Linked DNA regions of Homo sapiens: region 1 is linked to region 2. The links come from fine-mapping of genetic effects on plasma protein levels. A gene starts in region 2. The other region holds a variant in brackets. All regions are shown on one strand. Distances are between the middles of the regions. Region 1 has its middle 29 kb from the start of UCMA. Region 2 holds the start of UCMA (upper zone of growth plate and cartilage matrix associated).

What was found. PIP is the posterior inclusion probability: the model's chance that the variant is causal. Sun 2018 read protein levels with aptamers (SomaScan).
Region 1: its variant is fine-mapped to the plasma level of the UCMA protein (Sun 2018, PIP 0.95).

Annotation. Positions count from the first base shown.
Region 1 is chr10:13,260,544-13,265,917 of GRCh38, forward strand. No RefSeq gene overlaps it. Among named protein-coding and RNA genes, the nearest start is that of UCMA, 29 kb to the left of the region's middle. The variant C/T (reference allele first, on the strand shown) is at 3,017.
Region 2 is chr10:13,231,879-13,237,252 of GRCh38, forward strand. UCMA (upper zone of growth plate and cartilage matrix associated) reads right to left here and starts at 2,496. Exons shown (of 5, transcript NM_145314.3): 1 at 2,323-2,496; 2 at 1,857-1,922; 3 at 1,660-1,755. The coding sequence starts at 2,380. RefSeq lists an enhancer at 2,199-3,109.

The DNA of each region.
Region 1 (5,374 bases), 29 kb after region 2:
GAGCCAGCATTGGCAACCCGCTCGGGTCCCCTTCCACACTGTGGAAGCTTTGTTTTTTTGCTCTTTGCAATAAATCTTGCTACTGCTCACTCTTTGGGTCCACGCTGCCTTTATGAGCTGTAACACTCACTGCGAAGATCTGCAGCTTCACTCCTGAGCCCAGCAAGACCACAAGCCCACCGGGAGGAAGGAACAACTCCAGACGCGCCACCTTAAGAGCTGTAACACTCACCGCGAGGGTCCGCGGCTTCATTCTGAAGTCAGTGAGACCAAGAACCCACCAATTCCGGACACACTGGGATTACAGGCGTGAGCCATGGCGCCTGGCCTTAGCCATTTTCAAGTGGACAATTGGGTGGTTTTCAGTATATTCACATTGTGTTGGGCAACCACCACCACCATCCATCTCCAGAACTCTTTCTTCTTGCAAAACTGAAACTCTGCACACATTAAACACTAACTCCCCATTTCTCCATCACCATTCTATTCTCTGTCCCCATTAATTTGACTATTATAGGGACCTCATATAATTGGAATCACACAGTAATTGTCCTTTTGTGTCTGGTTTAGTTTGCTTAGCACAATGTTCTCAAGAATTATCATGTTGTAGCATGTGTCAGAATTTCCTTTCTTGACCAGGCACAGTGGCTCATGTCTGTAAATCCCAGCACTTTGGGAGGCTGAGACGGGAGGATTGCTTGAGCCCAGGAGTTTGAGACCAGCCTGGGCAACATGGCAAAAACTCATCTCTACAAAAAATAAAAAACAATTAACCAGGCATGGTGATGCATGCCTGTGGTCCTAGCTACTCAGGAGGCTGATGTGGGAGGATCACTTGAGCCCAGGAGGTTGAGGCTGTGATGAGCTGTGATTGAGCCACTGCACTCCAGCCTGGGTGTCAGAGCAAGACCTTATCTCAATTTTTTTTTAAAAGATCACTTTTGTCGCTGCTTCCCTGAATGCATGTGACTGATTGAGGCTATCATTCATCTCCACCCCTGCTACAGCAGTTTTCCTGTGTTGCGTCTCATTCTTCTCTGTCATCATTCTACAAGCTATTGTCATATTCATCTTTCCACAATGCAGCCAGGCACTGTGGCTCACGCCTGTAATCCCAGCACTTTGGGCGGCAGAAGTGGGTAGATAACCTGAGGTCAGGAGTTCGAGACCAGCCTGACCAACATGGTGAAACCCTGTCTCTACTAAAAATACAAAATTAGCTGGGCGTAGTGGTACATGCTTGTAATCCCAGCTACTTGGGAGGCTGAGGCAGGAGAATCGTATGAACCTGGGAGGCAGAGATTGCTATGAGCCAAGGTCGCGCCATTGCACTCCAGCCTGGGCAACAAGAGTTAAAACTCCATCTCAGAAAAAAAAAAAAAAAAAAAATGGAGTCTCAATCTGTCACCCAGGCTGGAGTGCAATGGTGTGATCTCGGCTCACTGCAACCTCTGCCTCCCAGGTTCAAGCGATTCTCCTGCCTCAGCCTCCTGAGTAGCTGGGATTAGCATGCACCATCACGCCCGGCTATTTTTTTTTGTATTTTTAGTAGAGATGGGGTTTCACCATGTTGGTCAGGCTGGTCTCAAACTCCTGAGCTCATGATCCACCTGCCTCAGCCTCCCAAAGTGCTGGGATTACAGGCAAGAGGCACCACGCCTGGCCAAAACCATCTTTCCACAATGCAAATTTGATCATATGACAATACCACCTACAATCCCCCAATGATGCACAGCACCCTACCACCCCCTTCTTTGTCAACAGAGCTGAGATTCTGTCCAGTTCTCCGCCATCCACGTGCTTCAGAGACACCTGGACCCATCTCCTCATTGATCTTGATTGGTTAAGCCAGTCAAGGCAATCCGTTGCTAATCATTGACTTAGGAAGGGGTTTACAAACTTGAGGCAGGGAGGAAGACTACAGTAGTGCAGAAGATTCTGGAAAAGGATTCTTAACTTTTAAAAAGAGCACAAGAAAAGGATCCCTAGTCCTTAAAAGGAGACACAAAGAAAGGATAGAATTCTATTTTGCCTCTGGACGGTGTGTAGAGATGCAATGCCTGGGGCCACTGCAGTCATTTTGTGATCATGAGAAGAATGATTGATCTGATGAGGACAGAATGTGCCCTACTCTGGGCTTCCAGTTTTATGAGGTAATGCATTTTCTTTATTGGTTAAGCCTGTAGAGTTGACTTTTTCTGTTACCACCAAAAGCATCCTGAGTTATTTACCATTGAACATGTTTTTTTTCTTTTTTTGAAAAGGAGTCTTGCTCTGTTGCCCAGGCTGAAGTGCAGTGGTGTGATCTCAGCACACTGCAACCTCCACCTTCTGGGTTCAAGCGATTCTCCTGCCTTGGCCTCCCCAGTAGCTGGGATTACAGATGTGCACCACCATGCCTGGCTATTTTTTTTATTTTTAGTAGAGACAGGGTTTCACCATGTTGGCCAGGCTGTTCTCAAACTCCTGACCTCAGGTGATCCACCCGCCTTGACCTCCCAAGGTGCTGGGATTACAGGTGTGAGCCACTGCACCCGGCCTACCATTGAACATTGAATAAACTCCAATTTACTATGTGTGGTGTAAAAGGATGTTCATCATCCATCCCTGTTGACCTCTCCAGTTGTCTCTCCCGCTGTCTCACCCTCTGTGCTCTGAACTAACACACTCTTGCCATGCTGTGTGGATTTACCCTTTCTTGACATTCTCTCTCTGGTGAGCAGCCCTCTACTCCCTTGCCTATTGGACAAAGACTTTCTAATTCTTCCAGATTATGACTGAGCACCCTCTTCTCCTCAATGCCTCTCTCCTTTCACCTCTCCTGGTAGAAGTGACCTTCTCTTCCTTGTGTGCCCCACCCCATTCTCTCCCTTTTGCCCTCACTTTTCCTTGTACATGACCCCACTTCTAGGTTCAGCCTTACTCCATGCACATAGATTTGTAGGAGATTGCTCTCCCTCTGCTGCCCGCTTCTCCAGTAGACTCTGAGCTCCTTGGGAGCAAAGACTATATCTTA[C/T]TCAGTTCTGTTTCTCCCAGGGGTTGTGATAGTGCCTGGAACATCATGGTCACTCAGTAAATATTTACTAAAGGGTATTGACGTGGAGGGCTTGGTTGAAAGCTGGGAGAAGTGGGAAGGGTGGCCAGGCAACTGTGAGGGGACAAGGGCTGGAGTGCCGGTGCGAGGTGTGTGGTGTGAGTGTGTGCACACATGTGTTGGCCGGCGTCTGGGTCTCTCTGTTGAGGGAACGCATGAAAGGGTGTCTGTGTCATGGTACAAGAGCGACCCAGTGGGTGAATGTGGGCTTGTGTGAGGCAAGTCTCCTGTGCAAGGAGGTATGAAAAGGGGGTTTGTTCCAGTGACTGGAGGCATCTGTGAGACTGTTGGGAGTGAAATTCTGAGGACTGGATCAGAAGTGCAGAAGGAACACATGTAAACTTTTCTGATCAGTCGAAATTTTGGTCCGCTTAAGATCTTTTCCTAAAGCCATATTTGTCATTTTTGAAGCCCTAGCTTCTAACCCTTTAATTATTTTCATTCCTACTCAACCTGCCCATGTTTTCCACACCTCTTTTTAGTAACCAGAAAGGAATGAGGCAGACTGTCCTAATAATAAGCAGATCATCACCTATTATGTATGAAACCCAGGGTTTTTTGGTTTGTTTGTTTGTTTGTTTGTTAGAGACAGGGTCTCACTTTGTCATCCAGGGTAGAGTGCTGTGGTGCAGTCACGACTCACTGCAGCCTCAACCTCCTGGGCTCAAGCAATCCTCCTGCCTCAGCCTCCCAAGTAGCTGGGGCTACAAATGCATGCCACCACACCCGGCTAATTTTTAAATTTTTTGTAGAGACAGTGTCTCACCATATTGCCCAGGCTGGTCTCGATCTCCTAGCCTCAAGCAGATCTTCCCACCTCAGCCTCCCAAAGCTCTGGGATTACAGCGTAAGCCACTGTGCTCAGCCCAGGTGTTTTTTTAAAAAAACATTTGTTTTATACATTCACTCTTGTAAAATAGGCAGTGTATAGGAATTACCTGAGATCCTCCAGGCCACAGGATGATGGAAGATAACATGTGTGATTTTGTCTTTTTCTTGTTTTGGAGGAAGACACAGGAGCCCATCGGGGTAACGAGGAATCAACACAAGATTATGGGTGGTCTGGAGCTCTCCCCCTCCTGCCAGTTTCCAGCAACATCCGAGGCATAGTCGTGACTGATTTGGGGGTGAGTTTTGTCATATTCATTGATAAATACATCCTTATTTTTTGAGACAGGGTCTCCAGCCCAGGCTGGAGTGCACTGGTGTGATCATCCTCACTGCAGTCTCAACCTCCTGGGCTCAAGTGATCTTCCTGCTTCAGCCTCCTGTGTAGCTGGGACCACAGGTGCACACCACTATGTCCAGATAGTTGTATTGTCTTTTGTAGAGATGGGTCTCACTATGTTATCCAGGCTGGTTTTGAACTCCTGAGGCCAAGCGATCCTCCTGCCTCAGCCTCCCAAAGTTCTGGGATTCCAGGTGTGAGCCACTGTGCCCAGCTCTAGACCCAATTTTAAGATCTTTTTTACCAAGTGAAGTCTGAATGGGTTTCTCCACAAATGATAAGAACAAAAGAGAAAAATATCCAATACTCTTATTTACTTTGCAAAGCACTCCATGCAGCCCTATTTTATAAATGAAGAAGCTAAGGTCTAGAGATGTTCAGTGACTTGTATAGGAAGGTACATAGAGCAGCCGGGGTTTCTCCTGAGGCCTGGCTGCGGGGAGCATTCGAGGGACTCTCCAAGGAGAGCTAGGGACTGAGTGTGGGGTTTGGTCCTTTTTTTTTTTTTTTTAATTGGCTCTGTCATTGGTCTAGGAAAAGACTGCAGACCAGGAAATGCAGGTTTCAGACCAGGAAGAGATTCTGCAAATCACGTGGTGGAGAGAAAGCTGTGTTTCCTGGGGGGTTAGCTGCAGCTCCAGTGACCATACCCCCAGGGTCAAGTCACAAAACCCCCCAGGATCAATGTTGAACTGTGTCCAGGAAGAAGCAAGAAATGAAGAGTGTGGCCGGTTGCAGAGGCTCACGCCTGTAATTCCAGCACTTTGGGAGGCCGAGGCGGGCGGATCATGAGTTCAAGAGATTGAGACCATCCTGGCTAACACGGTGAAACCCCGTCTCTACTAAAAATACAAAAAATTAGCGGGGCGTAGCGGTGGGTGCCTGTAGTCCCAGCTGCTCGGGAGGCTGAGGCAGGAGAATGGCGTGAACCCGGGAGGCGGAGGTTGTGGTGAGCCGAGATCGTGCCGTTGCACTCCAGCCTGGGCGACAAGAGTGAAACTCCGTCTCAAAAAAAGACTTTATGAGGTGCTCACACAAGGCACAAACAAAAC
Region 2 (5,374 bases):
ATCCAACCTGAGGCATCGCTGGGCACTGCCCTCCTGCTATCCACAGGAGTTGACTGGGTGACAGCAGATGCATTCATGCACAATCCTGGGTGTTCACCAGGCTGTCCTGCACCTCCCATGACTAATTGACACACTGAGCTTCTGTCCGAGGTAAGGCACTTCAGGCTAAATGGTGTAGCTCATTGTTTGGAGTCAGCTTAAGAGGACAGAAGAGGCCATGCGCGGTGGCTCATGCCTGTAATCTCAGCACTCTAAGAGGCCGAGGCAGGGGGGTCACCTGAGTTCAGGAGTTCGAAACCAGCCTGGCCATCATGGCAAAATTCTGTCTCTACAAAAATACAAAAATTAGCAGGCGTGGTGGCAGGCATCTGTAATTCCAGCTACTTGGGAGGCTGAAGCAGGAGTATTACCTGAACCTGGGAGGTGGAGGTTGCAATGAGCCAAGATCCTGCCACTGCACTCCAGCCTGGGCGACAGAGTGAGACTCCATCTCAAAAAAAAAAAAAAAAAAAAAAAAGAGGACAGAAGCTATTTGCCTGGCCTAAAATCATGCCTGTTTCCCCTGGAAGTCTGCCAGAAGATTGCTTCTCCCATTTTAATCAAAAACAGTCCAGCCCCCCTCCCAACCTTTCAGTGCTTCTTGACATTGGCCAACTTTTAAATCTCCAGTTGTATGAGGCCTGGAGGTTTTCCTAGCACGGTTATACTTATTCAATTTTTTTTAAAAAAAGAAATTTCATCTCCAAGCATTTCTATCTCTGTTCTTCCCATCATTTGAAAACAGTCCTGTTATTTTTACCAAGCAAGTCACCTTGCTGAGTGCCCTGAAGAATACAAAGAGTTCATTCACCCACAGGCACGAGGAGGAAAGACTCAAGCCAGAGACTCGGGAGATACTGTCTGAGCTCAGCATCTTGGAAGAAGCAGGTTCAGGAGTAGAAACTCAAATGCCCTCAGGGGTTGGCAGGTGAAGGGCATGAGGACCCTGAAGCCGGGGCTCCACAGGCCCTACAGCAGGCTGTGCAACAGACAGGCTCACCCCAATGTGTTGAAAATGAAAACTTAAAAAAAAAAAAACCTCTGCTGGCTGAACACAGCTCTTTCAGAGGCTTATAAATAAGGAAATTAGGACCAGAGGGAGGAAGTAGCCAAGGCCACTTAGCAGCACAGCTGTCCCCAGACCCACATTTCTCAGCACCCAGTGTCCTGTGCCTTCCCCATGTGCGATGCTGTTGCTCTTATACAGAAGGTGTGCTGGACCAGTACCCGCAAAGCACACACTGATGTGTGGGTCGCCTCCAGACCAGAATATAGATTTCCCTCCCTACACCTTTCTGAAATCCAATGCATCTTATCCCTGTTAGGTGTGTTTAATGTAGCATCATGGCCAAGAAGCAGGACAAGAGGACCTGTCTCCAAGTCATCTTTGCAGAGGTGGGGCCTCCTAACCCTGACAAAGTATTCAATCCAATATACGACCTACAGTCAGGAAATAGGGTGTAATTTCTCATTCAGAGCTGCAGTCCCTTTGATACCCTGGGGTGAGCCCTTCGTGCCCAGCTGCATCCTGCTGCCCGGCTGACTGTGGGAGAGGAGGAGCCGGGGGGTGTGAGCAGAGGTGGTGATGGACGCGGGATGGGGTCCCTCCAGCATCCTTACCATTGACCTCATCTCTGGACTTGGGGGACCGCTTGCCGCGCCTCTTGAGGAAATTCGAGGCATCTGATTCCTGCATGAAAATCTTCTGTTTTGCATCTGAAACCCGGGAGAGGCCTGTCACCAGCAGTGTGGGGGTGCTGGGGCTGCTGCTTCGCTGGCTGCACCTGCCCTGCCCCGTGGGTGGCCCCTGCACTCACCTTCACTCGCCTCTTCTCCCGCCATCTGCATGGTGCCCACAGATACACTGGTTCCCTCTCTCAGCACTGCAGGACAAGGGCACAGAGTGAGGCTGCAGCATCAGAGGGGAGCCCAGACCCTGAGCTGAGTCCCCATCTCTCTTTCCAGGCTAAGCGTCCTGCCAGGGCCTGGCAGGGGGCCCGTGGTTTCTCACGTACCAGCTGCAGAGCCAATCTCCCCAGGAACCCACCAAGCAAGCTGGCTTGGGTTTTTTTTCTATTTTGTTTCTTTCTTTACTGTTTTTTATTATTATTATTATTTTTCTGTATTGCATTGTGTCCTACATGCACACGACACACACATACACACATGTTAACAATAAGCATACTCCTTTCTACCTGCATCACCTGAGCAGCCTTACCTGTGCATGGTAAGTCTCCCTTACCATGTAACTAACACCCTCCACCTTGACCCTCCTGTACTCACTAGACAGGAGCACCACGGCGGAGAAGCAAGACAGCAGGACGGCCTGTCTCCAAGTCATCTTTGCAGAGGTAGGGGCTCCGTCCAGGACCCACAAGGCAGACCAGGCGTCCTGCACCCTTTGGGTCCCCACTTCTGAGGCAGGCAGCCCAGGCGAGAGGAAGGAAGGCGGGGGAGGGAAGAGAGAGGCAGGAGGCTGGGATACCACTGGGGGAGAGGAGGAGGGGGCTGGGCTGCCCTTTCCATTGGCTGCTCCTAGATGGAGCAACGGAGATGTTTTTGGCACCTGGCAAATGTCTCCAGAAGCAGAGCTTGTAGTTAGGGCCCTGGGTGGGACGGTCTTGGAGTGGCCTTTCCAATGTCCGTGTCTGGGGATCTGCTGCTGGGAAGGCTCATCCTAACAGTCAGGGTTCCAGTGACCAAGGCCTGTGTCAAGGAGGTCCTGGCACCTGCTCCAGGGACGTTAGGGCCCCGGTCCTCAGGGTTGAAGCATGGGTGGGGGCAAGGAGGAAGAGAGGATCAATGGGGGAGTTTTGATCTAAATGTCAGTCAAGAAGGGCTCATAATGACTGGAATACCCATCAGGGTGACACACAGACGTGTGGGTCATGCTGACAGCGACCAGAGAACACCTTACCTGATGCACTGCTTCCAGCTGATGCTCACTGCCAAGCCAAACACAAACTCCTGGGGCCGCGGGTCCCAGAGCCCTTTAAAGTCAATTGCCTTCCCGCGGTGGCTCATGCCTGGAACCCCTGCACTTTGGGAGGCCGAGGCAGGCAGATCACCTGAGGTTAGGAGTTCGAGACCAGCCTGGCCAACACGGTGAAACCCTGTCTCTATTAAAAATAAAAATAAACAAATTAGCCGGGCATGGTGGCGGGCGTCTGTAATCCCAGCTACTCAGGAGGCTGAGGCAGGAGAATCACTTGAACCCGGGAGGCAGAGGTTGCAGTGAGCCGAGACCGCGCCACTATACTCCAGCTGGGGTGACAGAGCAAGACTCAGTCCCAAAAAAAAAATACATATAAAATAAAATAAAATAAAAATTTAAAAGTTAAAAACAGCGGCCGGGCACGGTGGCTCACGCTTGTAATCCCAGCACTTTGGGAGGCAGAGGTGGGCGGATCATGAGGTCAGGAGATCGAGACCACGGTGAAATCTCGTCTCTACTAAAAATACAAAAAAAATTAGCCGGGCGTGGTGGCGGGCACCTGTAGTCCCAGCTACTCAGAGAGGCTGAGGCAGGAGAATGGCGTGAACCCGGGAGGCAGATCTTGCAGTGAGCCGAGATTGCACCACTGCACTACAGCCTGGGTAACAGAGCGAGACTCCATCTCAAAAAAAAAAAAAAAAAAAAAATTTAAAAACAGCAAGGCCAAATTCAATCACCTTCCACAGCGGAGGGGGAGAAGGGCAGGTATCTGAAAAGCTCCACAGCTAATCCTGCATCTCTAGGAAGACACACATCATACTCCATGTAGGGGAGGAAATGGGTTCCCAGAAATGGGACCACTAATGAAATCAGCACCAACATGGCCATTAGAGCTCAGTCCCCTTGGAGATGTGTTCCTAATGTTGCCTTTGTTAGGAACCATCAACTCTTTGCTGTCAGCCTTCTGGCATCGTTTAATGTTTGTCTAATGGGAACCATCACTAGACCTAGAACCCAGCCCATACCTACCTGAAGCTCCCCTCTTACAAGACTTTTATGTTAGCTAGGCAAAGTGGCTCAAGCCTGAAATCCCAGCCCTTTGGGAGGCCGAGGCAGGAGGCTCACTTGAGGCCAGGGGTTGGAGATAAGCCTGGGCAACATAGCGAGACCCCCATGTCTATTTAAAAAAAGAAAGACTTTCAGTCGGGCGCAGTGGCTCATGCCTGTAATCTCAGCACTTTGGGAGGCTGAGGTAGGTGGATCAGTTGAGGCCAGGAGTTCTAGACCAGCTTGGCCAATATGGCAAAACCCCATCTCTACTAAAAATACAAAAATTACCCAGGCGTGGTGGCATGAACCTGTAATCCCAGTTACTCAAGAGGCTGAGGCAGGAGAATCGCTTGGACCCAGGAGGCAGAGGTTGCAGTGAGCCGAGATTGCGCAACTGCACTCCGGCCTGGGTGACAGAGCGAGACTTTGTCTCAAAAAAATAAAAAAAGGCCGGGTGCAGTGGCTCATGCCTGTAATCCCAGCAGTTTGGGAGGCCAAAGTAGGTGGATCACCTGAGGTCAGGAGTTTAAGACCAGCCTGGCCAACATGGTGAAACCTTGTCTCTACTGAAAATACAACAATTAGCTGGGCGTGGTGGTGGGCACCAGTAATCCCAGCTATTCAGGAGGCTGAAACATGAGAATTGCTTGAACCCGGGAGGTGGAGGTTGCGGTGAGCTGAGATCGCACCATTGCACTCCAGCCTGGTCAACAAGAGCGAAACTCCATCTAAAAAAAAAAAAAAGAAAGAAAAGAAAAGAAAGACTTTCATGTTTACATCCCTCATGGACTTTACCGTCGTCCAGGAAAAGAATGTTAAGGCAGAAAAATAACTGAGACAGAGTAAACAAAATAAAGGGTTGGTTTCCAGTGGAAGAAAATGGGGTTGATGGCTATGCTGGCTGGCCCTACGTGGGCTCCCCTGGGATACTGGCTGGCCTGCACTGAACATGGGAGCAAGGGCTCTACATGGCTGAACGAATGCATGAGGACAGAGCCACAGGGCTCATCTATCAAATGAACTGGATGTCACTGGGAGAGGGGAGGGACAGACACAGGGCTGAGCGATTTTGATGGGACGTCCAGTGAGAAAGCGGACATGTGACAAACCCGTGACATCCTCCATACCCTAAGTCCACTTGTGCCTTTTTAATTCTATTTGTTTCAGCCACAAACTTGTATTGAACACCTGCTGCCATGCACCAGGCACCTGTGCCCGTCACTGGCGAGTCAGCCTTGGGTAAATCATTTTTAAAATTTTTTCAGCTGGGCGTGGTGGCGCATGCCTATAATCTCAGCACTTTGGGAGGCCGAGGCAGGCAGATCACCTGAGCTCAGGAGTTTGAGACCA